Regions from separate parts of the Homo sapiens genome. Here all the other regions are linked to region 5. Evidence: fine-mapped expression QTL. A gene starts in region 5. Each other region holds a variant in brackets. All regions are shown on one strand. Distances are from middle to middle. Region 1 overlaps ASB13 (ankyrin repeat and SOCS box containing 13). Region 2 overlaps TASOR2 (transcription activation suppressor family member 2). Region 3 overlaps TASOR2 (transcription activation suppressor family member 2). Region 4 has its middle 2.8 kb from the start of LASTR. Region 5 holds the start of ASB13 (ankyrin repeat and SOCS box containing 13). Region 6 overlaps ASB13 (ankyrin repeat and SOCS box containing 13).

Region 1 (5,005 bases), 28 kb before region 5:
ATGATTTTATGTATTTACTGCATACGTATGAATTATTAGATGGGCTTTTTAAAAAAATTATACAAATTGACTCATACCATACACAGAAAAGTCTGGCAATTGTTTGATCGACCACTATATTTTTGAGATCTATTCGTGTTAAAACGTGTAGTTCTAATCCATCTTAACTTTTATCGAGTGTAGGTATGACATGTAAGATGTATATGATATTCTACATCTTACTCCCAACTGGTGGGGTTTTCACTATTACAGGTATCGCTGCAGTAAACAACCTCATACATGTCTCCTTGTGATATTGCCTGAGAGTTTCTTTAGGGTATTATTTATATAAAGTAGAATTACTGGGGACAAGGGGTATGCACATTTTTCATTGCATTAATATCAGCCAATAGCTCTCCAAAACAGACCTATCATCAATGTATTCCCCACTAGCAGCCTGTGCATTTCCATTTGCCCACATGGCCCACCCATCCACACTGTGAAACTCAGACCTTTCAATGACTGTCTCAATGGCGACATTCAATGGTAATCACTTTGTTGAATTAAATATTAATTTGAATTTCCCTGATCACTTCTCAGCATCCTTTCCTGGGAGTGGACATTTCAAGATCCCTCTTTTATAAAGCCCTGTTCTTATTCTTTGCCCAGTTTTTTTCTATTGGGTTGTTTATCTTTTCTTTTTTGTAGAAATGGGGTCTCTTTAGGCTGCCCAAGCTTGTCTCAAACTCCTAAGCTCAATCCTCCAGCCTCAGCCTCCCAAAGTGCTGGGATGACAGGCATAAGCCACAGCACCTGGCCCATTTTAATGATCTATCATAAGATCTTTATATATTTTGCTTGCCAATTACTTGTTATATATGTTGCAAACATCTGCTCCAAATCTGTCCACTGCACACTGCATTTGAAAATGTAAACTGAGAAGTCTTATGACTGCAGGACTCCTGAAATAGATGGTATGATCTTAAGGCGGGAATAGTTCACACAGCTGCAAGATCTACAAACATCAACAAAACCACACAACAGTCAATGTAACTTTCATATTTGGGGACCACTTTAGGCTTTTCAAGGCATCTTTTTTTTTTCTTTTTTGTGGGGACAGAGTCTCACTCTGTCTCCCAGGCTGGAGTGCAGTGGCACGATCTTGGCTCACTGCAACCTCCGTTTCCAAGTTCAAGCGATTCTCCTGCTTCGGCCTGCTGACTAGCTGGGATTACAACCATACACCACCACAGCTGGCTTATTTTTGTATTTTCAGTAGAGACAGGGTTTCAACATCTTGGCCAGGCTAGTCTCAAACTCCTGGCCCAAGTGATCTGCCCACCTTGGCTCCCCAAAGTGCTAGGATTATAGACATAAGCCACCCCACCCAGCCAAGGCATCTTTCAATCATTTAATTTCAGCCTCATAAAAACCTGAGGCGGCCGGGCGCAGTGGCTCACACCTGTAAACCCAGCACTTTGGGAGGCCGAGGCAGGAGGATCACGAGGTCAGGAGATCGAGACCATCCTTGCTAACATGGTGAAGCCTCGTCTGTACTAAAAATACCAAAAAAAAAAATTAGCCGGGTGTGGTGGCGGGTGCCTGTAGTCCTAGCTACTCAGGAGGCTGAGGCAGGAGAATGGCGTGAACCCAGGAGACGGAGCTTGCAGTGAGCCGAGATCGTGCCACTGCACTACAGCCTGGGCGACAGAGCGAGACTCCACCTCAAAAAAAAAAAAAAAAAACACAAAACCTGACGCTGGGGACCCAATCTCGTCCACCTGAGGTGACGGGCTTGGCTCAGTGGTTGGTCATCAAGACCCCTTCAATGCTCCAAGTCTGATCCATTATCTCGGTTTTGCAGCTTTCCGGAACAACTCAGAGTAGAGAAGCAGATAAACCTGTGTGCAGTCACAGCCCTGCATAAGGGCAGGGGAGGACCCAAAATCCCAGTCACCTGGTCCCGTGGACAGCGTCTGTCTCCCCCAAGAAAAGTCCACATAAGGGGGGTGCTGAAGTTGGCATCAGGAGACCTGGGGAAGAGATGGGAAAGTGTGGCTCCCTGGCAAGCACAGCGCTGCCAAACGACCTGGGACACAGCAAGACGAGAGCCACCCCTCTCCATCCACACAGGATGCGCCCATCTTGGTGTTTCTGCCCCATAAGAAAAGAGTCGTGTGAACACAGGGATGCACTTTATTCCGCCACTTTTATTGAGCAACAGCCGTGGGGACCTGATTCTGC[G/A]CTAAGTGCTCTACTGTGAGACATCACAGGTTGTCATTGCTAGAGGCAAGAATCTCTTACAAAGATGAAAGGGCAGAACCCAGTGCTTTTTTTAATGGTTGTTATTCCATGCAGAAACACTGACTGATCCAGAACTGGTAACTAAGGCGGTGATCAAACAGGAATGCTTTTCTTCTCAGTTTAGGACGAAGACCCGCCATGACAATGGCGGGAACGCTGGAGTAAAACCTCACGGCGGCCAGCATGAAGTTTTTCGCCAGATTTGTGGCCCCACCCCCAAGTACCCACGCGGAGAGGCCTCCAGTCATACAGCACAAAGGGCATCGCCTTGGGCAGCTCAGGCTCACTCTGTTCCACACTGTCTGCGGTGGGAGGCTCGGGCCGGCCTGGGTGCATCCAGTGAGTACCACGTTCCCTTTTCCCGGCACACTGTCTCCAGGACAGGCGTGACCTGTTCTCCAGAATGGGTAGAGATGGGGTTTCATCAAGTTGGCCAGGCTGGTTTCAAACTCCTGACCTCAGATGCCCCAGAAACCACTCATCCCTGAACTAATCATGCAAAGTCCTCCAGTTTAACTCCCTGTTGTGGGCGGGGTTCTTAAAATTTATGAAGGCAAAGACTCCTAGGCCGGCCCATGCAGTCTGAATACGCTACCGAATGCTCCACCTATGGCTTATAATGCAGAACGACCTGTTTCTATCACTGCAGGACGGGATTGCAAGATTTTCTTATCCTGCCTTGGCTGCAGAGTCCCATTCCCGTCCAACTCAAAGCACTGGGACAATGCTGGATGTGATAGATGGTCTTACTAATTTGATAGCTTCAAGGAGTTAGCAAACTGTAGGGTGGGTGAAGAATTCATTTGACAACCATAGAAACAGATGAAAAACAATTCCCACAGAGTCTCCAAACAGGCCTTTGCACTGAGAATGCCGAGCCACGAGAATATACACCTTGACACACCTTCACACTGCTGTCGGTTTGAATGGCTCATTACCAAAACCTTAGTGGTACCGCCTACGTGTCCTCTAAAAGGTTTTTATCCTACATATAAACTTTTTACAAGAGTTGGAGACCTAATACTGAAGACAAATTTCCTAAGAAACTCAGTGCTACTTGTGGGGAATACAAAGCCAGGGCCTTCCCCCACAAAGACCCATAGAAAGTCCCTGAGTGACAGATGCGCGCAGGCTTGGGGCTGGGGGATGCCTTGGAAAGTGCTCCAGGAAAAGCATCCACACAGCAGCCAGCAGAGCAGCAGTCCCAGGCCACATCCCAGGCCGACCTTCCGTGGGCCCAGCCATTCCCTATGAGCACCGAGGGCAGTCCTGGTGCCGACCCGGAGGTGGTGGCCTGCACCTGGGGCCTGTGCATCTGCGGCAGGCTGCCCCGGTGAGTGAGAATCAGCAACAATGCCCTCAGTCCCCAGCTCTGCCAGCCTCCTCTGTGCTCCCCACGCCGTCTGTCCTGAGAGTGCCTTTGAGGATGGTCCGTAAAAGAGGAAAACTGGATGGTTGGGCCCATGCCCATTGAGAGGGTAGGTTCTGTAGAACAGCGCAGGGCCACACCCACAACTGTGACCTGAGACGCAGGCCTTCCCAACACCCTGGAAACATTATCCAGGATCCAGGAGAGAAGCCTAAACAGGATCGCAGGAAGGGACTCGAAGGAGCGTTGTTCTATCTACAGCAATCACGCTGCTTCAGAGGAACAGGCAGAGCCCTCACCCGGGCAATGCTGGGCACAACGGGGGCAGCCACGGTCCGGACCCCACCTGCAATTCAGTTGTAGGAGAGGTAATCAATGAGCCGGGGCGGGATGTTTAACTTGGCAATCTTCTCCAGCCCTCGGACGCCAGTGGCCTTCCTCAAGTTCACCCTGCAGAGCTGTGACAGAGTCAGAGGTGTCTCTGAAAAAGGGAGCAAGGAAGGATGTGAGGTTAATTTCAGGAAGAAGCACAACACCTGCAATGGAACACAAACTCAGAGGGAATCGGAAACGCCTCCCTTTCCCCTGGAACCGGGATGTGTCCTGTAGGCCTTCTCTGGAAGGACAGCCAGGAACCCGAGGAAGGGAGCCCAGGAAATGAAGTTCGGGGCATGATGTCCACTGGGATTGCCTTTTGTGGGCTTTGGGAGTTTGTTTGGTTTTGAGGTTTTTTGTTTTTTGTTTTTTGAGACAGAAAAAAAGCGACAGAGGCAAGAATCTCTTACTCTGTCACCCAGGCTGGAGTGCAGCGGCACAATCTCAGCTCACTGCAACCTCCGCCTCCTGCATTCAAGCAATTCTCCTGCCTCAACCTCCCGAGTAGCTGGGATTACAGGCACCCACCACCATGCCCGCCTAATTTTTATATTTTTAGTAGAGATGGGGTTTCATCAAGTTGGCCAGGCTGGTTTCGAACTCCTGACCTCAGGTGATCTGCCCGCCTCAGCCTCCCAAAGTGCTGTGATTACAGGTGTGAGCCACTGCGCCTTTTCAAAACCATGGTTTTGGTTTTTTGAGACACGGCATTATATTTCAGCACCCAAACTTGTCATCAAACAACTAATCTGCAGCTAGGAGGCTCATCTGTCAAATGTCCAGCACAGGAGGCACAGGTCTGGTGCCCGGGCAGGTGTCGGCCACAGCTTCTGCTGCTCCACGCCACGGGCCACAGGGAACCCAGGGAGAGCTGGGGCAACAGCACAAACAGCCCCCGCAAAGTGCTTAAGGGTCTGTCCTAGCGCAGAGGACAGGAGCCAGGACTAACAGCCCAGCTCTCCGCGGAAGCCCACAGGG
Region 2 (5,005 bases), 58 kb after region 5:
TTCCTGTTTAAAGGAATCACACAGAGAGGTATGTGACATAAAAGGGCATCAGGTTTGCATCTTACTCCCAAAAGGTTCAGAAAAAAATAATGCGTGTGTATAGAGAGAGAGAATGACAAAGCAAACATGGTATACTGTTAATATTTGGGAAATCTGGATGAAGGGTATTAAAGAGTTCTTTGTCCTATGTTTGCAACTTTTGTATAAGTGTAAAAGCATTTTAAAATGAGTTTTTAAAAAGGAAACAGAGTGCCGGGCACAGTGGCTTACACCTGTAGTCCCAGCACTTTGGGAGGCCGAGGTGAGCAGATTGCCTGAGGTCAGGAGTTGGAAACCAGCCTGGCCAATACGGTGAAACGCTGTCTCCACTGAAAATACAAAAATTAGCTGGGCATGGTGCGGCATGCTTGTAATCCCAGCTATTCGGGAGGCTGAGGCAGGGTAATCACTTGAACCCGGGAGTCAGAGGTTGCAGTGAGCTGAGATCGCACCACTGCACTCCAGCCTGGGTGACAGAGCCAGACTCCATCTCACACACAAAAAAAGGAAAAAGTAGTCAGGAAATAACTTTTTTTTTTTTTTTTTTTTTTTTTTGAGACGGAGTCTCGCTCTGTCGCCCAGGCTAGAGTGCAGCGGCACAATCTCAGCTCACTGCAAGCTCCACCTCCTGGGTTCACGCCATTCTCCTGCCTCAGCCTCCCGAGTAGCTGGGTGGGACTACAGGCGCCCACCACCACATCCGGCTAATTTTTTGTATTTTTAGTAGAGACGGGGTTTCACCGAGTTAGCCAGGATGGTCTCCATCTCCTGACCTTCTGATCCACCCGCCTCAGCCTCCCAAAGTTGCTGGGATTACAGGCGTGAGCCACCGTGCCTGGCAAATAACTCATAAATAGCATAATTTTTTTTAATTCCTTATTCCTGTATACATAATTTTTTTGACACATCTAGATACTTTGTCTGTACTGAAAATACATGTATTGAGAAGATGTGAACATATTTGCAGACCATGGTTTATGGGTCATATATTTGAAAATCTGTACTACTTAAAAATACACATATTATTTAACCTGGAGCTTATCAACTTAAGGTCTTTTTTGTGGTTATATTTTTGTTTACATTTATATTAGAAAACCAAAACTTAAGAAAATTTAGATCCACTGTTTATTATTCTGCTTGATACTGTTGTGTTGTTTTTCAGACCGCAGGAACTAGATTTTAAATATGTAATGAAAGTGTCTTCCTTGAAAAAAAGACTACCAGAGGCTGCCTTCAGAAAACAGAATTACTTGGAGGAGAAAGGTCTGTTGAAATGTAATAACACGCTACTTGTCCTGGGCTTTGTTCTGGTTATTTTCTGCTCTCTTCCAAACACTCACACATGCACACTTCTGTTTCATCATAAGTGACTCTTAAAAGAGTCTTTTGTAAGAAAGCTGTAGAGTTACTATTTTCTTCAGTTCCTTGGAGGCCAACTAGAAACTGAAAGGTAGTTTCATCTAAGATGACAAAGGCTAGCTTTAATATAGAAATACTGATGCAATTAAGCAAGCAGATATTAAAAGCATTTGGAAACTTGTAACTATTCCTCTCGAGGACAGAGTTTTTGTTGGTTTTATTTATAGAGGTACTTTTAAACTCAAAGAAAAACCATGAGAAGGAAATTTCTTGGTCATTTAGGTTAATTCATGGAGCACTGATGTTTATTCATGTAGTATTTGTATTTGTCTTGTTAATCCTATAGCAGTGTCAGTATAAATAAGAGCATTGTTTTAAAATAACTATTTTGGTGATGTTTTATGAGGGAGTTTTATAACCAAGAACAGTAAATGATAAAGGTTTCTGAGTAGTATTTCTATTCTTTCATTTTTGCAACATATAAAATGAACAAATTGACTGTAAGTACATAATAGCGTATTAAAAATAAGAAATGTTTTTCTGGTTTTCTCTACAGTCTGTTTTCAAGATTTGTGCTTCAATTTGTATGAGGTAGAACTGTCAAACAGACAAGGGGAAAATATAGATAAATTAACAGAATGTATTAAAAACAAGCAATTGGTAAGCATCACTAATTTAAAATATAATTATTATGTTTTTCTTTAATTGATATATATTAGTTGTGCCTAGATGGCACATATATATATATTATATATATATATAGATAGATAGATAGATAGATATAGATATAGATATATAGATATAGATCGATATAGATATATATTAGTTGTGCTGAAAGGAGTTTCATGTTTAATATTTATTTATATATTATTAATGTAATACAGTATCTGTGGGGTATATGTTCCAAGACCCCCAGTGGATGCCTGAAACTGTGGATAGTACTGAACCCTATGTATACTGTGTTTTTTTCT[A/G]TACATGCATACTTATGATAAAGTTTAATTTATAAATTAGGCACAGTAAGAGATTAACAACAATAATAAAATGGAATAGTTACAACAATATACTGTAAGAAAAGTTATGTGAGTGTGGACTGTCCATCTCAAAATATTTTATTTATTATGCTATACTTGAGTACTCCTTGTGATGAATGAGGTAGGTGGTGCAGGCATTATGAAGTACTACTATTGCCCCAGAGGGTGGGTAGCATCTACAGCATAGATACACTGGACAAAGGGATGATTCACGGCCAGGCGTGGTGGTTCACGCCTGTAATCCCAGCACTTTGGGAGACCAAGGCGGGCGGATCACGAGGTCAGGAGATCGAGACCATCCTGACTAACATGGTGAAACCCTGTCTGTACTAAAAAATTATCTGGGTGTGGTGATGGGCGCCTGTAGTCCCAGCTACTTGGGAGGCTGAGGCAGGAGAATGGCATGAACCCAGGAGGCGGAGCTTGCAGTGAGCCTAGATCGCGCAGCTGCACTCCAGCCTGGGCGATAGAGCAAGACTCCATCTCAAAAAAAAAAAAAAAAAAAAAAAAAAAAAAAGATTGATTCACATACTGGGCAGGAGGGGCAAGAAGCAAGGATACAAAGTAGTGTAGTCCCTAAAGTCTGGCATGGTGGAACACATCTGTAATCCCATTACTTTGGGAGGCCAAGGTGGGAGGATCGCTTGAGGCCAGGAGTTTGAGACCAGCCTGGGCAACATAGCAAGATCTTATCTCTACCAAAATTAAAAAACTTTTTTTTTTTAAACTAGCCAGGCATAATGGCCTGCACCTGTAGTCCTGGCTACTCCGAAGGCTGAGGTGGGAGGATAGCTTGAGCCTGGGAGTTCAAGGATGCAGTGAGCTGTTACTGTGCCACTGTGCTGCAGGCTGGGTAACAGAGTGATACCCTGTCTCTTAAAGAAATAGGCTCTTAAATCATAGCTCCTGTAAGTCAAGGAGCTTAGGAGACTATGGAGGAGACAAATATGTAAGTCATCATGTGACATACAACACATAGGGGCTCTCATAGAATCTTGTTGAAACTCAAAGCAGTGATTCTTTTTGAGAGTGAGATATTAGTGTCATACCTTAATTGTAATGTAATAATTTAAAAAGTCTTATTTTGTATATTCATTGTGATTAAATAATATATTGATTTATATTTGTAGCCTTATCACCTCTCAGTTTTGAAATAAAATGTTCTGTAAAATGGTATATTTTATTTAGGTGGTTTAACTGAAAAATTATTGTACTAATATTGGATTTTATCTTTTATGTGTATATAGATTTTTGAAATGGTAAGCAGTGGAAAAGAAAAACTATTAAATTCATGATTTAGAACAACAGCTTTTAGACAACTTCTGCTGCCTGGGGACAAAACTGCCCCAGTTACTGAAAGCATTAAAATTTCAAGACTTTTTTCTTGAGCTCAAGAGTCCACTGAAGACTCTAATAGAGGGGAACAAAAGAGAGGAAGAATTTATTTTCATCTGTATTTCTTGTTGCCCTGGAACTTGATTATTTTCTGTTATTTTCCATTTCTTAAGATGCATAGAAAGAAGTATTCTATTGGATGGTATCTTGCAGTCTTTTTAGATTCAGCGTTTTGGGATAATTTTCATGTAAATATGAGCTTAAGATGCTACTTATAGGTTTGATTCATCGTGAGTTTATAATGACTACATGGTAACATATTGGCTGTTTAGGCAGTGGTATGAAATGTCAGCTGTCTCAGTGAAAAAAATAAGTCTTTTCTGATTGATCTGCCATGTTCTTGAGCACTGTTCTAAAACTAACCTTTCATGTTCTGGTTATTTTATATAGACCCAACAGGGCCAAGATTATTTCAGCTAAGGAACTTGAAGTTTCTGATACTGGGGACAGAATTACCCTGATTCCCATAACATTTGCAGAATTTTTTCTTTTCTTGAGGTCAATATTCACTAATGAGTATGGGTAGAGGGAGAAGAGAGGGATTGCAGAATATTCCTTCAGTTGAATTTTTCCTTTTTATTTAAGGCAATCATCAAATGCTTAGAAGATCGAGGGTTTTTCATTTTACTTACATCATCAGCCTTACTATCAGAACCAGGTATGGAGAACTGTTTTGGGAAAAAATATTTTTCATTATGTTTACTTTTGCTTTATAAGATCAACAACCTAACTTTTCTTCTTCTGATTCTCATTCTGCATAGATTTTGGAGGCAAGCAGATGGGTCTGCATGGGTTACATTTATTTCGTTCACCCCTGTCAACAGGTGAGGATACAATGGTTTCCAGCTCACTCTGTCTGTTGGATATATTTAGTCCTCATCTGACTTGACCTCTCAGCAGCACGTGACACTGTTGACTGTTTTTTCCTCTTAAATACCTCTTTTCTTAACATCACTGGTTCACCCTTCTTGACCTCCCTTGTAGGTTTATGCTTCCCTCTGAGCCTCAGTCCCATATCTCCACTTGTCTACTGACATTGCCACTGAGATATCTCAAAGGTGCCTTAAATTCAGCATGTCTAAAACTGAATTCATTTATTATTAAATTTTGCCATCGTCTCTCCTGTAAATATGTCTCAGAGTCTTCATAGGTGCTGTTCTCCTTATCTGGACCTTATCTGT
Region 3 (4,812 bases), 94 kb after region 5:
AGTTATCTCCCACCATAGTGTGAGCAGGTGGGACCAGGCTGAGGGGCTTGTGAGAGCAGGATGCTGCCCAACCACATAAGTGACAGTGATGGTGTGTACTCAACCATGGGTCTTAGTCTGTTTTTTTCTTGTTTTACAAATAATTATCACTGGGCTTGGCATGAGCCAAAAGTACCTTAAACTTGTCATCTTCTTTTGCTACATTTATTGTTTTGTAGTTCAACTGAAGGAAATTATCAAAATCCTGGAAAAACTAAATGGAAATGGAAGATGGAAGTGGTTGCTTCACTACAGGGAAAATAAAAAGCTAAAAGAAGATGAAAGGTAAGGACTTGCTGTGTGTATGGTTCCTCCTGCCCTGCTGGGGTAGCAGAGAAACGCCTCATGTTCCATGGGCTCTAGCCTAGTGCTGCAGTGGAATGGCCTTCATCAGTAAAGAGCATGAGGGCTGCTGGCTCTGTATTCAATGAAGGAAGCTATGTGCTGTGACCGTAGCCAACAGTATGAGGCATGTACTTATCTAGACTAACAGAAGTAAGGGAGTCAAACTTAGCAGTCATGAAATGTCCATATTCTATTTAAGCCCTACTACTACAAACTTTAAAAAATATATGGAACTTGTACCATTAATGCTTTTTTGGATACTTATAAGTTGCCACCACTTTAAGGAGAATGGAAAAATTAAGACCATAATCTATCCTTAATTCAGTTGTACCCTAAAAGAAGAGGCTTATAAATACGCAAACTTCACTAAGTCTAAAGCTGTAATTTATAAAAGAAAAAAATACATGTTTGATTCCTTGGCTGAAGAGAGCTGGGGCTGAGAGATTCCTCCACATTCTCACAAGCAGGACCAATTGGAAAAGCAGACCTGACAAGCCCTTGTGAAATAAGGATTTCAGGCACTGTTAGGTGCATCCATTTTCATTCAGACTTCATCCCCAGGAGCTAGATAGCAAATCCTCACTTTTATAATGCAGAACTGAAGCAGAGTAGATAACAAACATGACCAAGGTCAAACAAGTAGTAAGTTATGAAGCTGGGTTTCAATCCCAGAAAGACGAAACGACTGTTAGCTGTATGTGACCTTTGAGGAACAGAATCTCAGAAAGCTTTTCTCTTGAAGTGGAGCTAGCAAAGGAGAGAAGGAGCACAGAGGTTTCCTTGGCAGGAAAGGAGGGTGCAAAGGCTTCAGCAGGTCAAGGGTATGACCATTCACAGCGGACTTCAGTAACCAGCACTTGAGGGGAAAAACGTCAACTTCGGTAAGTAGAGAAGCACATTTAAGGTTCTGATGTACCACAGCACACCTATAAAATAAGCATAAATCAATCTAGCACTTCTAGGGCTTTGGGTAGAGAAAGTCATGTCACTTAACGACGGGGATACAGCCTGAGAAACGTCATAAGACGATTTTGTCTATGTGCAGACATAGAGTGTACTTACACAAACTGATATGGTAGAGCCTACTCCTAGATTGCAAACCTGTACATGTGACTGTACTGAATACTGTAGGCAGATTTAATGCAATGGTGGTATCTGTGTGTCTAAACACAAAAAAGGTTCAGTAAATTACAGTAGTATAATTTTATGGGACCACCATTGTATATGTGGTCCGTCATTGACTGAAACATCATTATGTGGTACATGCCCGTACTCACTGCTGTTGGCGCTGCAGTATGCTCTTCATATTATACCACTCTGGCATTATGTAACAGGCGTTATGTATTATTGAGAACTCATTAGAAAACTCTTCATATCCTTTGACCTTTTGTGGAATTTACCCAAAATTCTAGGTGGTTATCAGTCATTGCAAAACCAACCTCAGTTCCATCTCTAGGAGGGAGATATGCAGACTACAGTTAAATATTTTAAAGTTTATACAAAATAATGCCCACCCAAAACTTACACAATAGAAGCATGTAAAAAGTTTCTATTCATAGAAAGAGGGATGGCATAAAAGTTGGTATCATGTAACTATGTTCAGTATGATGTCATAAAAAATTTATACAGGAAAAAGTGAAAGGAAATTAATTCATGATGTTAAGAGTGATTATCACTAGGGTTATGGGAATGGGTGTGATTTGGGTTTTCTCCAACAAGCATGAGAATGTAAGTGATGAAAACTAGAGAGACGGGAGTCGAGCAGAGACAGAAATGCTAAAAATTTAAACATACTGAGTTAACACATTTTCCTAGTAGTGATAGAATTTTCAGGGAAGCAAGAAACCAAGAAAATTCTGGCTGCTACCTAATTTTAATGAAGTTGGCGATTATCTGCCCACAAGGTATGAGAAGTATAGATGTGCATTGCTCTACAAATATACAACGCAATAAGGCCCACTCGAAATTCATGAAAGGCTTGCCAAGCCACATGGCTTGATTGGTCGTAGGTAGATGCATGATGTCCCTCTTAGAATGAGGCCCATGTTTAAAATCCACATTTACAAAAGGAGTAGGTACAATTGTGATGTTTTGAGGTAACCAAAGTGTGTCATGAAAAAGAACGTCAAGAAGAAAGGCAGAGGAACTCATGAGTTTGAATGGTTAAACTGAAGGCAAGAAAAAGTCCTAAGAATAAAACTGAAAAATATTTTAATATGCCTATGTATCTTTCACAGAGTGGATTCAACTGCACATAAGAAGAACATAATGTTGAAGTCATTTCAGAGTGCAAATATCATTGAATTGCTTCATTATCACCAGTGTGACTCTCGATCATCAACAAAAGCAGAAATTCTGAAATGTTTGCTAAACCTGCAAATTCAGCATATTGATGCCAGGTTTGCTGTCCTCCTAACAGGTAATTCACAGGCGCATTTTACTCAGTTAATGCCAAAATTGGTCAGCTCTAGGAATGTCAAAGTTAGATACCTGATGAAGAGTATCAGGTATCTAAATGGCTTGGCATCCCATGGATACCAGAATCACCCAAATCTGCTGAAGCTGAAGCCCTTATATAAAATGTAGTATTTGCAGGTAACTACACAATCCTCCTATGTATGTAAGTCAGTTCTAGATTACTTATAATACTCAATACAGTATAAGTAGTTATACCGTATTATTTTTTAAATCAATACTGGGGCTGGGTGCAGTGGCTCACACCTGTAATCCCAGCACTTTGGGAGGCCGAGGCGGGCGGATCACTTGAGGTCAGGAGT[T/TA]AGAGACCAGCCTAGCCAACATGGTGAAACCCCATCTCTACTAAAAATACAAAAATTAGTCAGGTGTGGTGGTTCATGCCAGTAGTCCCAGCTACTTGGGAGGCCGAGGCAGGAGAATGGCTTGAACCCCGGAGGCAGAGGTTGCTTTTAAAAAATTTGTGGGGCAGCCAGGGACAGTGGCTCACGCCTGTAATGCCAGCACTTTGGGAGGCTGAAGCAGGTGGATCACTGAGCCCAGGAATTTGAGGCCAGCCTGGGCAACTTAGCGAGACCTCATCTCTACAGAAGTTGGCAGGTGTGGTGATGTGTGCCTATAGTCCTAGCTACTTGGGTTAAGGCAGAAGGATTGCTCGAGGCTGCAGTGAGCCGTCATCACACCACTGCACTGTAACCTGGGTGGCAGAACAAGACCCTATCTATCTTTAAAAAAAAAAAAAAAAAAGTGTTAAGAAAAATTTACGTAAAGAACCATAGTTATCATTTTTCAGGGATTTTTTTTCAGTACTTTAACCACCACCCCCGATGGAGGCATCTATTTCCAAAGCTTCAAATCTTTTCTTAATTTGGAACCCAACACCTTTTCTCCCCCTACCCCTCACACGAGGAAGTTCCACAGATTTTTTAAAATAAAAAACCAGGTCCTGTTATATAAAAGTACATTAATTATATTAACCAAAAGTTGTTTTTTTTTTTTTTTAACAGACAAGCCTACTATCCCCAGAGAAGTCTTTGAAAATAGTGGAATCCTTGTTACAGATGTAAATAACTTTATAGAAAACATAGAAAAAATAGCAGCTCCATTTAGGAGTAGCTATTGGTAAGAACACTTTTTATGTAACTTTCCCATGTGAGTTGGAGTTGTTGATGGCAAATATTGACATTTGTGTCTAAGGGAAACAGTTGGGAAACTGTTGTTTACATACTTCATGCTATAAATTTAAAGTGTTTGTTTAGGGGTGGAATTGCTATTTGGCATAAATAGGAATTCCTAAATTATCACTAAATGAAGTAACCATCTACTAAAATTACCTATTTTATCTAATGTGCATTTTCACTTGCTGTTAACTTGGATCGTCAGTACAGAACATAATGTAACCTTAGAATGCATAGGCGTTTTCCCCATTAGAGCATCCCGCTTATAAAATATTTCTTGTTCGTATTATTTTAAGAAGTTCTTTATCAATTTTGTGTTTCTTCAGGTGACTCAACTACAGCCTGCCTGGATATGGATGATGCCAATAAAAAATTAGTATTTTCCCTTTGGAAAACTTGTGAACATGTGAATACACATGTGAACAGTCTTACATTTGAAAAACCAATGTTCTACAACTTGGAAAGTTTTCATTTTTTATATTTTGCTGAAATATGTCACAGTGGCATTGCAGTTGTCTGTTAGCTTTGGGTTGCAGTGCTAGATATTGTTTTAAATTATTTTCATTTTAAACAAGATGCCTTCTAAGCTATTGAGCTTATTAAAAATAATTTTACATGTTTACTTAGTTGGAGCAAAAATAAGTCTATTTTAACAAATAGCTTTGTTTTTGCATGCTAATGTCAGAAAGGCATACGATGCACATTATGCTCTGTTTTAAAGGTTTTACCACCCTTGTAAAAACTATAATCTTAAATGGTTTTATTTGCTGTTACACAA
Region 4 (5,005 bases), 68 kb before region 5:
AGGGTGACGCTGCCCAGACTCACAAGAGCTCGGGGTCCAGCTGTGGGGTGCAGCCAGGACCCAATGCCATGTCTGATCCCCACACGGGAGACCACCAGCCTGCTTCGCAAAGGAGTTCAAAGGAAGCAAGCACCAGCCAGGCGAGACACTCATCCAGCTGTGAGCATCACGGCCTAAAGGCAACATGCAGGGGCTCTTTCCCATTTTTAATGGAATCTTAACTGTCCACCAACCACGTCTTCCAGATTTACCCACAAGGCTTGACAGCGTCAGAGGAAAGAAAGGAGATTCTCCCATCCCGTGCTCTTCTTTCTCTCTGCTGGGCGGTTGTGTGTACAGAGCGCAGGCCACCACACACACACACACACACACACACACACACGCATACACACATACACGCACACGCATGCACATACACACATACACACATGCACATACACACATACACACACATACACACATGCAGAGTGCAGTTCGTAGTGGCCATGCATGAGCAGCCCCATCCAGGTGGGCAAAGGGAGTGATGATGAGCAGCCTGGGCCCGAGCTGTGGTCAAGACAGCCCTGCCCCATCGGTTTCAGCCACCCGGAGCGGCCGCCCCACCCGCCTCCTGCAAAGAGGTGAGCTGCCCCTGCCCACTGCTGCTCCAGCTCACACCCGTCATCCGTGAGCCATTACTGACTACCTACAGGGTGCGCCCGCCGTGGTCTGCATGTCCCACAGAAATTACCCAGGGCTGGCCCAGCGGCTCCCAGCAGACGGCCAGGCATGTGCTCCCAGGGGCACTGGTCCTAGACAGATGAGGACACATAGGGACTGACACCCCTGAAAACGCCTGGGGCAGCAGGCGAGTCACCAGGAGGAGGACTCAGGAGCCGGAAAGGAAGGGCCCATCCCTGGAAGCGTCTGAGCAGAGGCTGGGCAGTCCCAGCAGGGCAGTGTCAGAGGGGACTGGAGGCTCCAAAGCTCTGCTGATGCTGAGACCCTATGAGGCTGTGTCCCACCAAATGAGCCTGCTGAGCTCACAGGCCTGCGTCCCACCAACCGGGAGTGCTGGTCCCACAAGGCTTCATTCCACCAATGGGGCCTGCTGAGACCCCATGAGGCTGTGTCCCTTCAACTGGGCCTGCTGACGAGTGAGCTAGAAGTGGATTTCCTGGAAATGAAATCCATGCCATGACCTGAGAAAGGAGAGTGGCTGAGGAGAGGGCAGCAGGGGATGCCCCCCTCATGGGGGGATGCTCCCCACCCCTCCCTTTAGTACTGAGGGACCCCAGCAGCTGCAGAAGACCAGGGACCAGGGGCCGCTGTCATGGCCTGTGTTGAAATGTGAATGCCTCAGGTTTCCTCTCCCTGAATTTTCCCCTTTCCTCTTCCCTGTTTACCTTTCTGCCTCAATATCCCTGAGTACAAATCGCAAGGACACCAACAGCGGCTTCAGTGGGTCCTTGTGTGAGCCAGGCACATGTACTATTATCTCATTTAATCCTGAGGGAGGCGTGAGGCAGGCCGGGGCAGAAACAGCCTGCACATTTTTCTAGCTTTTGGTTCTAAAACCCCAAGCCCCTGGGAGAAAGGGGAAGGTGGAGTGGGCAGAGAGGGCTTGAAGAAGCTTGAGGGGAGAAGGATCTCCCCAACAAGAGATTAATCAGGCCTGATAGGAAGCAGCCAAGGGAGAGGTAGAAACAACAACAGAGGGAAAGAGAGAGAAGGAGAGAGAGAGAAGAATGAGAGAAAGAGAACGAGAGAACAAGAGAGAGAGGAGAGAGAAAATGAGAGAAAAGGAGAACGAGAGAGGAGAGAGAGAGAAGAACGAGAGAGACAGAACGAGGGAGAGAATCAGAGAGAAAGAGAACAAGAGAGAGAACGAGGGAGAGGAAAGCAAGAATAAGAGTGAGAAGAGAGAGCAAGAACACAAGAGAGAGAAGCAGAGAGAGAGAGAAGAACGAGAGAATGAGAGAGACAGAATGAGAGAGAACAAGAGAGAAAGCGAGAGAGAGGAGAGAGAATGAGAGAGAGAGAAAGAACGAGAGGAGAGAATGAGATAGAGATGAGAGAGTGAGAATGCAAGAGAGAGAGGAGAGAGAGAGAAGAACGAGAGAGAGAGAACAAGAGAGAGGAGAGAATGAGAGTGAGATGAGAGAGTGAGAATGTAAGAGAGAGGAGAGAGAAGAACGAGAGAGAGAGAACAAGAGAGAGGAGAGAGAGAACAAGAGAAAGAAGAAGGAGAGAGAACAAGAGAGAGACAGGAGAGAAAGAACAAGACAGAGAGAAC[A/G]AGAGGAGAGAGAAAGAGAACAAGAGAGAACGAGAGAGAATGAGACGGGAGAGAGAGAACATGCACCCTGGGGAACTGTGCCCATGTTCTCAGCTCCTCTGAGGGACAGAGCTGAACTCTGGAGAGGGCAGATGGACCCCCCCACCTCCTTCACCTCCTGCCCGGGAAGCCAGAGTGCCATGAGACCAGGCCTCGGAGTCTCAGCTGCCCCCGTGCACACAGAGCATAAAGGCCCCACAAGGAAATGAGGGCCCTGAGACCCCCAAGGTTACCCCACAGTCTTTGGGTGGAGAAAGCCGGGGAAGGACTGACTGGAATTTCCCAGGACCCTGCCACCCGGACCTGCACTCAGATGTCAAGTTACTACAGGAAAATAAAGTGTGCTCTATTTCTTCTGCAACTGAGTTTTTGGACCAGCATTTACATATGCGACATTTGTTTTTAAATTCCCAGCTTAACACCTGGTAGTTCCTCAATGCATGTTTATCGAACGACTGCGTGGGCCAGAGTCAAAAAGAGTGCTGCCGGAGAGGCAACAGAAACATACGATTGGCCAGTGGTTCTCAAAGTGTCACCGAGGAACAGCTGAAGGGTTCCAGATCCTTTCATAATAATCCTAAGACACTAATTGACTTCTTCATTCTCATTCTCTCACAGTGAAGTTTCCAGAAGCTACATGACACGCGGTTCAATTCCGATTGAATGCGGAAGGAGATATGACAACCTTAACGTCCTCTATTAAGCCATACATTAAAAGGACTTGCAAGATGTAAAATAATGCCCTTCTTTTCACTGAATTCTTTTGTCTTGAAAAAATATAATTATTTCCTATAAGAATATTTGATGTTGGTGTGCAACAGGTTTATTAATCGACTGATAGATTAATACATGCATATTTTTTAAGTTTCTCAGCTGTAATTGTTAATGCAACATACATTGATAGATGCGGCCATATAAACAAGAGCTCCTCGGGAGCCTCAGTGGTTTTTCAGAGTACAAAGTGAGTCCTGAGACTACCTTGTTTGAGGATCACTGTAATAAACAAAGAGCAGTGCAGGGGCGAGCTGAAGGGGACAGTGGCTTTGTCGCTGACTGTTTGACCTTGAACAGGCTGTTTGACCTTGAGTAGGCTGTTTGACCTCTGGCCTCATCTACCAGTGGAAGATGCTGAGCAAACGGGTCCCAAGTCCCCTCCACCTTTAACCACCTGTAACTCTTGGTTCTTTCACAGCAGAGGCAGAGACTGGGAGCTCAAAAGGCCAAAGGGGCCCTCCCCGAAAGCCTGGCTCCCTGGAGCACACCGTGAGAATGCCACAGCATCGGTCTGCTGGCGAAAAATAACCGCCCTGAGACCTGGGGTCCGAGCACTTCTCCCAGGGCCCGGAGGAGAGGGGTGATGTCAGCGCCCTGCAGCCGGCGGCATTCCTGGGCGCACAGGTCTGTGGGTGATTGCTCAGGAATCCGCCATCCATTCATGCCTCCAGAAATGTCACCTCTAATCCATGCCTGAGCACAGAGTGTTTGCCTGTGTGTGTGTGTGTGTGTGTGTGTGTGTGTGCACCACACTCCATCAAATGCAAGAAGTAATCCAATTTAGGCTCTTACGTCCTTTCAGGGAAGACTCACAGAGAAACAAAGCTCCGAGCCCTGTGTTTCGGGAAGTCACCCCTGTGTTGTGGCCTCAGCAAGCAGAAATTTGAAGGAGCAGGTGGGGGTGTGAGACCCAGCAGTGATGGTGCCCTTCCCGCCTCCTGGCCAGAGGCCCTCCTGCCCATCCCTCCCGGAGCCCACGCTGTCCTCCGTGGGGCTATTGGAAACCTACTCTGAAACTGTTATAAATACTCAATAATAAACAAACATGAGTTATTTCTGAAATGTTCCCAGGAATAGCCAACTGCCCAAATAGCCAAGGTTGTTCTTCAAGTCCTGGGAAAAATAGAAATGTGGGTATGGTTTATTTTTCCTTTGCTCAAAGCAGGATCCTTGGTCACACACATCTAATTTTAGTTTTCTGTTTCTATTTTGTATGTTATCATTGTGTAGCCCAGGGAAAGAGAGAAGAGAGGGGTGGGAGAGAGACTGGGGAAGAATGAGGGGGAGAGAGAGAGAATGAGCATGAAGGGAAGACGGGAGGAAGATTCTGGTCTTCAGCTCTTGCTCCTGTGATAACATTTGGAAAAACAACAGTGTAGTCTTCAATATTTCCTTGGCCCTGCTGGAAGTGAATTTTAGAGACCCAAGATGGTGGGTGAGCCATAGAGAAATGTTATAAATTTCCAAGTCTCCTCAAAATCAGATAATAAGTGAAAATGTAGATAGCTGGAAAAAAAAAAATAAAGGGAGGCCACGATGAAGACCACAGCTCACCCAAGGCATCAGAAAAGGAGTTTCCAGTGAGCAAGGAGGGTCTGGAATTAAGACGTTTTGGGGCCAGGTATGGTGAGTCACGCATTTAATCCCAGAGCTTTGGGAGGCCAAGGCAGGCAGGTCACTAGAGGCTAGGATTTCAAGACCAGCCTGGGCACCATAGCGAGGCTGCATCCCTACAAAAAATACAAAACTTAGCCAGGCATGGTGGTGTGAGCCTGTCATCCCAGCTACTCTGGAGGCTGAGGCGGGAGGATCACTGGAGCCCAGAAATTGGAGGCTGCCGTGAGCTATGATCACACCACTGCACTCCAGCCTGAGCGGACCCTATCTTAAAAAATACTAAAAAGACCCTTTCACAAG
Region 5 (5,005 bases):
CTGGGGATAAATTAGGGATTAGGCATGGAGAACACCGAACCCACAGGTAAACAAAAAGAACACCCGCCATGTCCAAGAAAAGCAAGACATTACACAAAAAGAGAAACATAGTCCCCACATAGCAAGTGGCTCAGCTGCAATATTCACAGTCACAATAATGTCAACACTGAAATCTGATTTAAACAAAAACAATTCTACTGGAGGACCCTGGGGGGAACGTACGGGGGAGTGGGGGAGCAGCCAGTAGGTTAGAGGTTCATCTACCACAGAAGGACGTCCATAGGGAATGCAGAATTTCTTTATTTCTTTATTTATTTATTTTATTTATTTTTGAGACGGAGTCTCACTCTGTCGCCCAGGCTGGAGTGCAATGGCATGATCTCAGCTCACTACAACCTCTGCCTATCAGGTTCAAGTGATTCTCCTGCCTCAGCCTCCCCAGTAGCTGAGATTACAGGTGCCCGCCACTATGCTTGGCTAATTTTTGTATTTTTATTTATTTATTTTGAGACAGAGTTTTGCTCTTGTCACCCAGGCTGGAGTGCAATGGCCCAATCTCGGCTTACTGCAACCTCTGCCTTCCAGGTTCGAGTGATTCTTCTGCCTCAGTCTCCCAAGTAGCTGGAACTACAGGCACCCGCCACAATGCTCGGCTAATTTTTGTATTTTTAGTAGAGACGGGGTTTCGCCATGTTGGCCAGGCTGGTCTCGAACTCCTGACTTCAAGTGATCCACCTGCCTCGGCCTCCCAAAGTGCTGGCATTACAGGCATGAGAGACTGCGCAACAGCCCAAAACCTAAATGTTTTGGTCGCGGTACACCACACATCCAGAATTTGAGGTCAGAATGTTAAAATTGTCTAAAGCTCCTACGGTTCGCCTCTGGTGCTGCTGGAATGGCAGTATTGTTTTGGATCCAACACATTCAGCTTATTCATTACACTGGGAATAAAAAACATCAGCAGAACTTATTTGGGGAGAAATATATTAAATAAAAAATGACAATGTCAAAAATACCAGTGAACCTCAAAAGTTGCGGATTCATTAGTTTAAAATGTGCCTTTCTTCTACAGATGCATTCCATAACAAACGATGCAGAAGACATGCTCAGAAGTGATGCCATGAACAGAAATATTAAAATATGTGTTTAAATAAGCTTCTGCCGTTAGCTATTCACTGCTTACTCAATTAAGCTAATCAAATGCAGATCACAGTGTCAGGGTCAAAGTCTTGTGCTTGCCTGGACTGGAATGCCAAGTAAAAACACATGCTTATTAGATACCTTTGATCATGTCAAAGGTGGTTATTTTGCAAAGTCAATTAAAATATCTTTGCCTTGCTATGACTGCAACTTCCTCTTCAGCTAAATTTACCCTTAAGACTTTTCCCTCTTAGGTGCACTACTGTTTTTACCAGGATGAATATGCTTTAGATTTTTTTTTTCTTTTTAGGCTTTCATAGTGCTTCCGTCGCTCATTTCAGTGACCATATTATTGCTTCATAGGCAGCAAAAAAATTTGCTTCCCCAAAGAGTGTCCTTCCCTCAAATCCATTTCATTCTTGGGCTGCTCGGATTTTGGTAAAGTAGGCTGCGAACTGGGATGGCACTTTTCGGAGTGTGCCGGGGTGCCCCAAGGCCACCTTCACTGGAGCGGAGTCGGGGTCACGCGGACGCCTCTGCAGGATGCTCGGACACTGCGCCACGGCCTCACCCGCGCCAGTGGAGGGGGGTTTAGCTCTTACCGTGGGCTCGCGCCTGGCTTCCCCGAGAGGGAGCACCGTGGGCGTTTCCCAGGCTCTCCCCCGCCACTGGGCAACGGCCCCGCACGCGTCCCGCACCTTCCCCAGGGCGCGCGGCGCTCGGTGGGTTTGCGGTTGCGAAACCCCACACCTGGCGAGCCGCACGGACTGCAACCCCGCAGTGCGCTGGCCTGGGACAAGGCACCAGACATGAGAGCCCGTCTGGGATGCGCGGCACCACTGGGACCCTGCTTTCACCGCGGCCCACCCCGCCAAACGCCCCCGCCCACGGAGCCAGCGCGGGGCGCGCCACCACCTCCCCGGCGCAGGCCATCGGATACGCGGCCGGCCTCAGGAGCCGGCGCCGCTGCCTCGCTCTGACCTCCGCGGCGCCCGCACGTACCCACGTCGCCCAGGAAGCAGCCGTCCGCCGCCCGGGGCTCCATGCGGCTCACCGGCGGCCGCGCGGCGACTCTGGGCGCCGGGACCTGGGCCGGGCCGCGCGGGGCCGCTGGGCGGGGCCAGTCTGCGCTGGGCCGCGCGTCGTCCCGAGGCGACCGAGCCGGGAGTTGTAGTTCCCGCCGCCTTGGCGAGGTTCCCGGAGGCGCTGTCCCTGGGTCCGGACTCCGCTGTCGCTGCCCACCCCGCTTCGCCCGTCGCGCCGAGGAGTGTGTGTGCTTGCATCTGCAAACCGTGCGTCCCGTGCACAGAATACGTCCGGTGCAAAACGTGTCCTGTGCACTTGTCCTATGTAAACGTGTGTGTCCGTGTGCAAAACATGCATCCTGTGCATATGTCCTGTGCAAAACATGCGTCCGTGTGTAAACTTGTATCCATTGTAAGCATGCTTCCCTGTGTCCCTTTGCAAAGCATGGATATGTGTTTCCATGTGCAAAACATGTGTCCTGTACAAAACATGCATCCTGTGCATGTGTCCTGTGCAAGCGTGTCCTGTGCAAGCGTGTGCAAAACATGTGTCCATGTATAAACATGTATGTATTGCAAATGTGTCCTGTGCAAGCATGTGTCTGTGTCCACGTGCAAAGCATGCGTCTAGCTTCCAGAGTTCACTTGCATTGTACAGATGCTGATGATGCTCCAGAGTACTCGAGTTCCCCCATGCTTTAACTTTCAAGAACCGCTTCCCACCAGAGCCGGTGTTCATAATCACTGTTTCTTTGATCTTTCAAGATAATAATTTCAAATCGTTCAAATCAATTTCTTAATGCCTTTTCTTTACGGGTGGTTTTTAATCCAATGTTCCCCTAAGCTGCTTAGCAAATGGAAGCTGGGGCACAACCTGGCAGAAATGAAAAACCTGTTTCCTGTTTCCGGAATAATACCCAGTCAACAATTGAGTAAGGGATTTTTATTTTATTTATTTATTTTTGCAAAGCAGCTTCCCAAGTTTAGAAGGTTTAACCTTGTGAAAGTTCACTGTAGCCCTGTCAGGAGATTCGTCACTCACCTGACCTGTACTGAACCTCCATGCAGAAGTTAGTTTGGGCTCAAAAGTAAAAGTATCAGGAATCATCCAGTCTGGAAATAGGTGAGGCCTGGCAGAGCAGCCAGTTTGATCTCTCACACTACAAAGCTTCTGGGATGACCCAGGTCTCCATCTGCAGTCCAGACCGAAGGCACTATACCTAGGGGACATTGAACCATATCTTTTGGAAAGCAGAGCCCCTGGAAATGTGGAGCCCCAGGCCTGGGAATGGAATTTCAAGCCATTTGCACTGGGCATTTAGAGCCTTTTTGCCACTTTCTACCAAAATCAGGCTCCTGCATTTTTCTTGCCGGTTTTCTGCACTTTTTACTAAATGTAACAGATTTTTGTATCGTTATATTTACCATGGATGTTATGTTTTCCCCTGTGGCAATGTCGTGTTTGTATGATTGCATTTTCTTCAATATTTCTTCCTGGACGAAGTGTCATCTAAATTTTAGTATGATCATGTAGAACATATATATATATGTGTGTGTGTATATATTCATATGTGTATGTGTGTTATCCAAGTGTTTCCTAAACATATTAATAAGCAAGTATTTGCTTATTATTTGTTTTTCCTCCATTCTGTTGCTTGACCAAAATATTAAAAGATTTCATTACAGAAAAAGCTTTGCAAAGTTTACATATATATTCAGAAATGCATTCCCTGAAAGTATTTCCTTTTTCTTCAATATTTAGAATGTATTTCCCCAGCAAGAGCCAGAAAATATAAATTATTCTGTTCTGTTCTGTTGTTGTTGCTAAGTCTTTGAGTCCCATCTGGAATTCACTGCAATGTGTAGAATGAAAATATAGGAGCTCAGTTCATTCTTTTCTAAACTGAAATAGAGTTTTTCCAAAAATATTCATTAAATAGTAATCCACTTATCTATTTTTGTGTTAATCTCTTTTTATTGCATGTTGGTTCCAATTACCTTTTGAATCTATTGTAAGAACCTCTATGATATTGACAAAGTTTCTATTACTCATTTAGCAAATATTTGCTGATTACCTAGCCTAAGGTCTGTGATTTTTAAACTAACTACCACATGTGGTTTTTTGTTGTTGTTGTTTTTTGAGACGGAGTCTCACTCTGTCCCCGAGGCTAGAGTGCAGTGGCACCGTGTTGTCTCACTGCCATCTCCGTCTCCTGGGTTCAAGCAATTCTCTGGCCTCAGCCTCCAGAGTAGCTGGGATTACAGGTGCCCACCACCACACCCAGCTGGTTTTTAAAATATTTTTAGTAAAGATGGGGTTTCACCATGTTGGAAGTAAATGTCATTTTATAAGATCATAACTTTTGTATCAGCATTTTAAAATCTGATAAGACCGCTATTTGGAAAGTGGTGTAGTTGGGGACCCCCTACACATTGTTAAATGAGATGTGTTAACCCCTGGTTTTTCTAATAAAGACAGTCTTCATACCACATTTTTAGAGTCTTCTAGGTCATAAGATACTCTTCTTTTGCCTCCAAAATAAATAGCTTGGGTGAGGACTAAATTTTTAGGAAATCCAATTCTATTTGCTTGGATAAGCCATTTTTCCTAAATTTACTAACTCGAGAAATCAAGGTTTTGTTAAACATGTATATTTCTGGGTTTCTCCTGGAGATTCTGGGCTCCAGGGAGAGACGGGGAGGCAGCCCTATAATTTTTTTTAACTATTGCTGCAAGTTTGGCAATCACTGGTATAACCCATCCTCCAAAGGCTGTGAAGAAGCATTTCATTTACAATTTATATTGACTGATTCTATTCCTAAATATAAGAGTATTGAAA
Region 6 (5,005 bases), 22 kb before region 5:
AACCAGAGCCACTCAAGCACTCCCGCCTGGCCTCCAGCACAGACACACACTGCTTCTTCCTCTTGCGGGCCCAGGACGGAGGCTCCAGAAATACTGGTTGAATGAAAGAATAAATGTTCCTTAACAATGCATATTCTTTTACAAAAGGAAAACAGATAACGTACCCAAAACAGTAGGCAATTCAGAGAAGAGAGTAAGCTCTGCACTCCTCAACTTTCTCACGATAAGAGCAGACATTCATCAAGCTGATTAAAAGTAAAGGTAAAAAAAAATTTTTTTTTAAAAAAAAGAGCAGACATTCAGAAAGATGCAAGGAATTAGTAGCTAAATATGGCTGGTTTTGGGTTTTTTTTTTTGAGACAGAGTCTCACTCTGTTGCCCAGGCTGGAGTGCAGTGACATGATCTCGGCTCACTGCAACCTCCGCCTCCAGGGTTCAAGCGATTCTCCTGCCTCAGCCTCCCGAGTTGCTGGGATGACAGGTGTGCCACCATGCCCGGCTAATTTTTCTATTTTTTGTAGAGACGGGGTTTTGCCGTGTTGGCCAGGTTGGTCTCGAACTCCTGGCTACGGGCATGAGCCACCACACCTGGTCACATATGGCATTTTGCAACACACTAAAAAAAATTTTGATAAAAATATGATTTTTGTAACACATCATTCTTAGGGCACAGCCATCACTGATCCGATACAATGGAATCCCCCAGGGCTTCAGAATTCTTTTGAAAGAAAATGCCATTTTATTCGAAGTCTGTTCCTCAAGTAACAAAGGAGGTTATAAGAGAAAACAAATAAAAGAGAAGTGTTTTAAAGAAGCCAAGCAAATCGCCCAGCATCAGTAAAATAATTCGCCAAATGATAGATTCAAACCACAAACATAAAGTATTATCAAAAGTGGGATTTTAAAACAATCAGACACTAGCATGCCATCACTTCCCGACAGTCTCAGAGGGTCAAAAGAGGAGCTGAGAGGTGGAACGCTTTTACATTTTCTAGTTCCTCTAGCTCAAAAAGCATCGGAAAAATCCCGCTTTCTGCTTTAAAATATTTTAATCCCCTAAAAGCACATAAGAACCATGCTCATAACAGCATTCGTGGAGGGATCCTAAGAACGCCCCAGCCCTCCAAAGTGATGACATAATTTAAGAAAGTTCTTTCCACTTCCCGCAGCCAAAACTCAGAAGTCAGAACAGGAAAAGGATCTCTCAACTAGGAAAAATGCTAACTTATCTATGTCCTGAATTTGGCAGAAATGTACTACAAAAAAATAATATTCAAAAGCAATAGATTAAAGAAATATTTCCCCACAATTCAACCTCTCTTTCACATAAGGGGTTTTCCTCCAGTATAATGTTGCAATCATAACACGAAGTAAATTTTAACACTAAACATATGCTTGTAATGAAAAACAAATTGTACCATCCACAGAATCTAAAGTTCAAGTAGCTTTCTCTCATGTCATTAATTCTGGCAATATTCTTGCCAATTGGGAGAGAAAGAGATGGTCTCTATTTTAACAAAAGAAGAAAAACAGAGAAAGAGGCCCAAGGGAGGCACAGCTACTCTCTCACGATCAGGGAGAAAACCATGGCTGGAAAGAGCTCTAAAAATCACGCTCCCTGCCACGCTCCACAGACGAGGCCTTGGCCAGGGGCTCTTGCAGGGAGGCAGCCTTCCCAATGTACATCTTTTCAAAATGTGTGTTTGGCATCATTTGATTGGGTGGAAGGGAAGGAAGGTGAATAAGGAAGGAAATGAAATTGTGAATAAGGGATTGAAGGGAAACACCAGGCCAGGGGTGCAGGCAGCTACATGGATGGATCCTGAAAGTATAGCACTGAGTGAGCCAAGAAGAGAGTCAGAGATGAAACTCGATCAGCTATGTTCATTAAAAATATATGCTTGGGCCAGGTACAGGGCTCACGCCTGTAATCTCAGCACTTTGGGAATTCGAGGCGAGCGGATCTCTTGGGCCCAGGAAATCGAGACCAGCCTGCGCAACATAGTGAGACCCTAGCTCTACAAAAATTTAAAAATTACCCGGGGGGCGTGATGGCACACATCTGTGGTCCCACCTACTCTGGAGGCTGAGGTAGGAGGATCACTTGAGCCCGGGAGGTTGAGGCTGCAGCAAGCCACGATCGTACCACTGCACTCCAGCCTGGATGACAGAGTGAGGCCCATAGTGAGAAAGAGAACATAAACAGGTACTCGTTAGAGGAAAACAGGGCCAGACACGGTGGCTCATGCCTGTAATCCCAGCACTTTGAGAGCCTGAGGCGGGCAGATCACCTGAGGTCAGGAGTTCAAGACCAGCCTAGCCAATATGGTGAAACCTCGTCTCTACTAAAAATCCAAAAATTACCTGGGCGTGGTGGTGCACATCTATAATCCCAGCTACTCAGGAGGCTCAGGCATGAGAATCGCTTGAACCAGGGAGATGGAGGCTGCAGTGAGCAGAGATCACACCACTGCACTCCAGCCTGGGTGACAGAACGAGACTCCATCTCAGAAAAAAAAGAAAGAAAGAAGGGAACAGATACAGAGGAAAGAAGGAAGAGAGAAAGAGGGTAGGAGAGGGAAAGAAAGTAACTTTGTGTGAAGCAAGGATGGTAACATACCTTGAACTGAGAGGCAAGAGAAAGACTGAGGCAGAGACAGAGACACAGAGACAGAGAGAGACAAAGACAGGGAGCCAGGAAACAAGCAGGGAATTAAAAGCTCTGAACTTCGTGCTTCAGAGAAAAGGGGTCAACACAGGCTCATTACCAAAATCCTGCTTTCAACACAAAATAGGATTAAAGTGGATTCAGAGAACCCGTGGCCAGTGACGTGACGGGAC[C/T]GCCTAAGACCTTAGCACGCCAAGACTGGCACAATCCTGGAACATAAACACAAATAGCTCAATAGGTGCTTGTTACCACAAGAGAAATTGAAAAAAAAAATTAAATTTAAAAAATTATAATTAAAAAATTTTTTAAAAATTAAACAACAATTTTAAAAAAATTTTTTAAATTGTGCCAGGGCCAGTGCTAAGAACAAAGGTGGAAGCAGGACCGTCCTCAGGGAGCCGCTTCCGAACACTCCTGGCAGAGTTCAACATTCACTGTCAGTGATCAGATTAAAAATTACTTCACCATCATAACCGGACTTTCACCCTCCCCAGCCCTCCTCCTTTGCAAATACAATCTGGTTCCTGGACTCGCCTCACTGCCTACAAAGAACAAGAACAACGGTCTCCACGTCCCCCGTGGGGTGCAACGTGGCTCTGCCTCACAGCTCAGCTCTCAAACCGCACATGAAAGCACCTGCACTCATGTGGGCCCCGACTGGTTCAATCCCTCTCCCCTCTCCACAGTAACTGGTTCAAATGATCCAGGCTTGAGCCGATCAGAATTTGGCAAAGTTTGGGCAAAGGGACTGGGGAGGGGTGCAGGAAAAGGGACTTTCCACTCTTCTGTTTTTCTAGAGACACGGTCCCTGGCTTTCCTTTGGTTTCCCGAGGGATCTGTGACCTGACCCCAAAAGATCAGAATCACTACTTTTTAAAAATCTGTTTGTGAGGACGTAGGGGATGCTGTTGTTTCTCTCTCCTCTGTATGTTTGAAATTTTCCGCAATGAAAAAATGGTTTCTAAGAAGAAGATGATGATCCATCTGCTCTCACAAGGGGTACTAGAGGAGACCACCCAAGAGTAGGATGGGAACCAGGAATCCCGCGTGGAGCTGATGGCTGGATGCTACCCACAGCATCGAGCCAACACCAACAGTCACTGTGCGGAGGCTTCCCCAAGAAAGCCACGTTCACCTCTAACTCCCCAGGGGCATGCAAACTCCCGGGGAGAGCTGTGGGAACCCCACTTTAGGGCGACAGTGGGCCTCACAGCTGCCCCTTCCTTTCCAGCCCCCACCCCCGACTGTGCTGCCACCTGGTAATGTGGTGGGGGCGGGAGCAGACCTGACTTCAGCTCCAGCGTGGGTCCCGCCTAGTCCAATCCCTCTCCCCTGACCACAGTAATTAGTTCTAATGACCCAGGCTTCAGCCCATCAGAATTTGGCAAAGTTTGGGCAAAGGGACTGGGGAGGGGTGTGTGAAAAGGGATTTTCCACTCCGCTGAAAGAGCCTCCAGAAGGCTTAAAACAGGAAACGTCTGGCGTGTAGGCCTGAAGCCACTGCAGCCCCGTGACCTTGCTCAGGGAGGCCGGAGGCTTAGGATGAAGCCAATACTGAGGAAAGCAGAATCGCAACGTTCAAAGAAACTGAGGCCTGGGTGACACCACGGAACCTCCGGTCCAGCCGCCCCTAATCCTGCTCTGCGTCTCAGCCCTGAAGTCACCTGAACTAGAAATGCCCGCCATTGTTTACCAGTGGAAGTGGCTTCCTGTTACTCGCAAAGGTGTCCAACTGACATGAAGTCCTAACTGATACAGAAAGGATGTTTGCTTTAAACACTAAGTTGATCCCTTTCCCTACAACCACACCAAACAGAACGAAGGTAAAAATGGAACTCGTGTGTACTGAGCTCATAAAGGCTTGATATGAACGCACTGCGCTGTGTTCATAGAAACGGATCCAGCTGCCAGAGGAACGGCTCGGCTGGAAACGCTTACACCTGCTTCCAATGGAGATACTTCTAAGACAGTGTATAAAAAAATTAAAAGTACCTCAACAACTATTCCTACACAAAACGAATCTTTTCCACTAAAAAGACTGAAAAGTGGCACATGAAAGTGAGTAAGATTCTCCAATAAAAAACTACACATAACTAAGCTCAAATGGCTGTCATCAGGGGGAATTCATGATCTTCCTGTTCCCAAACAGGTTTGTTCTTGTTGTTAAGAGAAGGGGACTTGCTATGTTTCCCAGGCTGGCTGAAACTCCCGGGCTCAAGCAATCCTCCCGCCTCAGCCTCCCAAAGTGCTGAGACTATGGCTGTGAGCCACAGTGCCCAGCCATCCTAAACAGTTTTGTTTTTATCCTACACTACACCCAGAATTTGGATAAGATGA

The links.
Region 1: its variant is fine-mapped to the expression of ASB13 in whole blood (TOPMed, PIP above 0.99).
Region 2: its variant is fine-mapped to the expression of ASB13 in whole blood (TOPMed, PIP 0.98).
Region 3: its variant is fine-mapped to the expression of ASB13 in T cells (TOPMed, PIP above 0.99).
Region 4: its variant is fine-mapped to the expression of ASB13 in whole blood (TOPMed, PIP above 0.99).
Region 6: its variant is fine-mapped to the expression of ASB13 in caudate (GTEx, PIP above 0.99). The same link has a PIP of 0.9 or more in putamen.

What each region holds. Positions count from the first base shown.
Region 1 is chr10:5,636,698-5,641,702 of GRCh38, forward strand. It overlaps ASB13 (ankyrin repeat and SOCS box containing 13), which reads right to left. Exons shown (of 6, transcript NM_024701.4): 6 at 2,170-4,133. The coding sequence ends at 4,006. Among named protein-coding and RNA genes, the nearest start is that of LINC02677, 21 kb to the left of the region's middle. The variant G/A (reference allele first, on the strand shown) is at 2,224.
Region 2 is chr10:5,722,476-5,727,480 of GRCh38, forward strand. It overlaps TASOR2 (transcription activation suppressor family member 2), which reads left to right. Exons shown (of 22, transcript NM_001321783.2): 8 at 1,202-1,302; 9 at 1,955-2,058; 10 at 4,410-4,482; 11 at 4,586-4,648. Among named protein-coding and RNA genes, the nearest start is that of TASOR2, 40 kb to the left of the region's middle. The variant A/G (reference allele first, on the strand shown) is at 2,370.
Region 3 is chr10:5,758,669-5,763,480 of GRCh38, forward strand. It overlaps TASOR2 (transcription activation suppressor family member 2), which reads left to right. Exons shown (of 22, transcript NM_001321783.2): 19 at 219-324; 20 at 2,622-2,803; 21 at 3,864-3,978; 22 at 4,361-4,812. The coding sequence ends at 4,364. Among named protein-coding and RNA genes, the nearest start is that of GDI2, 52 kb to the right of the region's middle. The variant T/TA (reference allele first, on the strand shown) is at 3,162.
Region 4 is chr10:5,596,384-5,601,388 of GRCh38, forward strand. No RefSeq gene overlaps it. Among named protein-coding and RNA genes, the nearest start is that of LASTR, 2.8 kb to the left of the region's middle. RefSeq lists an enhancer at 223-1,095. The variant A/G (reference allele first, on the strand shown) is at 2,276.
Region 5 is chr10:5,664,367-5,669,371 of GRCh38, forward strand. ASB13 (ankyrin repeat and SOCS box containing 13) reads right to left here and starts at 2,229. Exons shown (of 6, transcript NM_024701.4): 1 at 2,143-2,229. The coding sequence starts at 2,185. RefSeq lists silencers at 1,813-1,862, 2,163-2,232.
Region 6 is chr10:5,642,309-5,647,313 of GRCh38, forward strand. All of the region lies in intron 4 of ASB13 (ankyrin repeat and SOCS box containing 13), which reads right to left. Among named protein-coding and RNA genes, the nearest start is that of ASB13, 22 kb to the right of the region's middle. The variant C/T (reference allele first, on the strand shown) is at 2,842.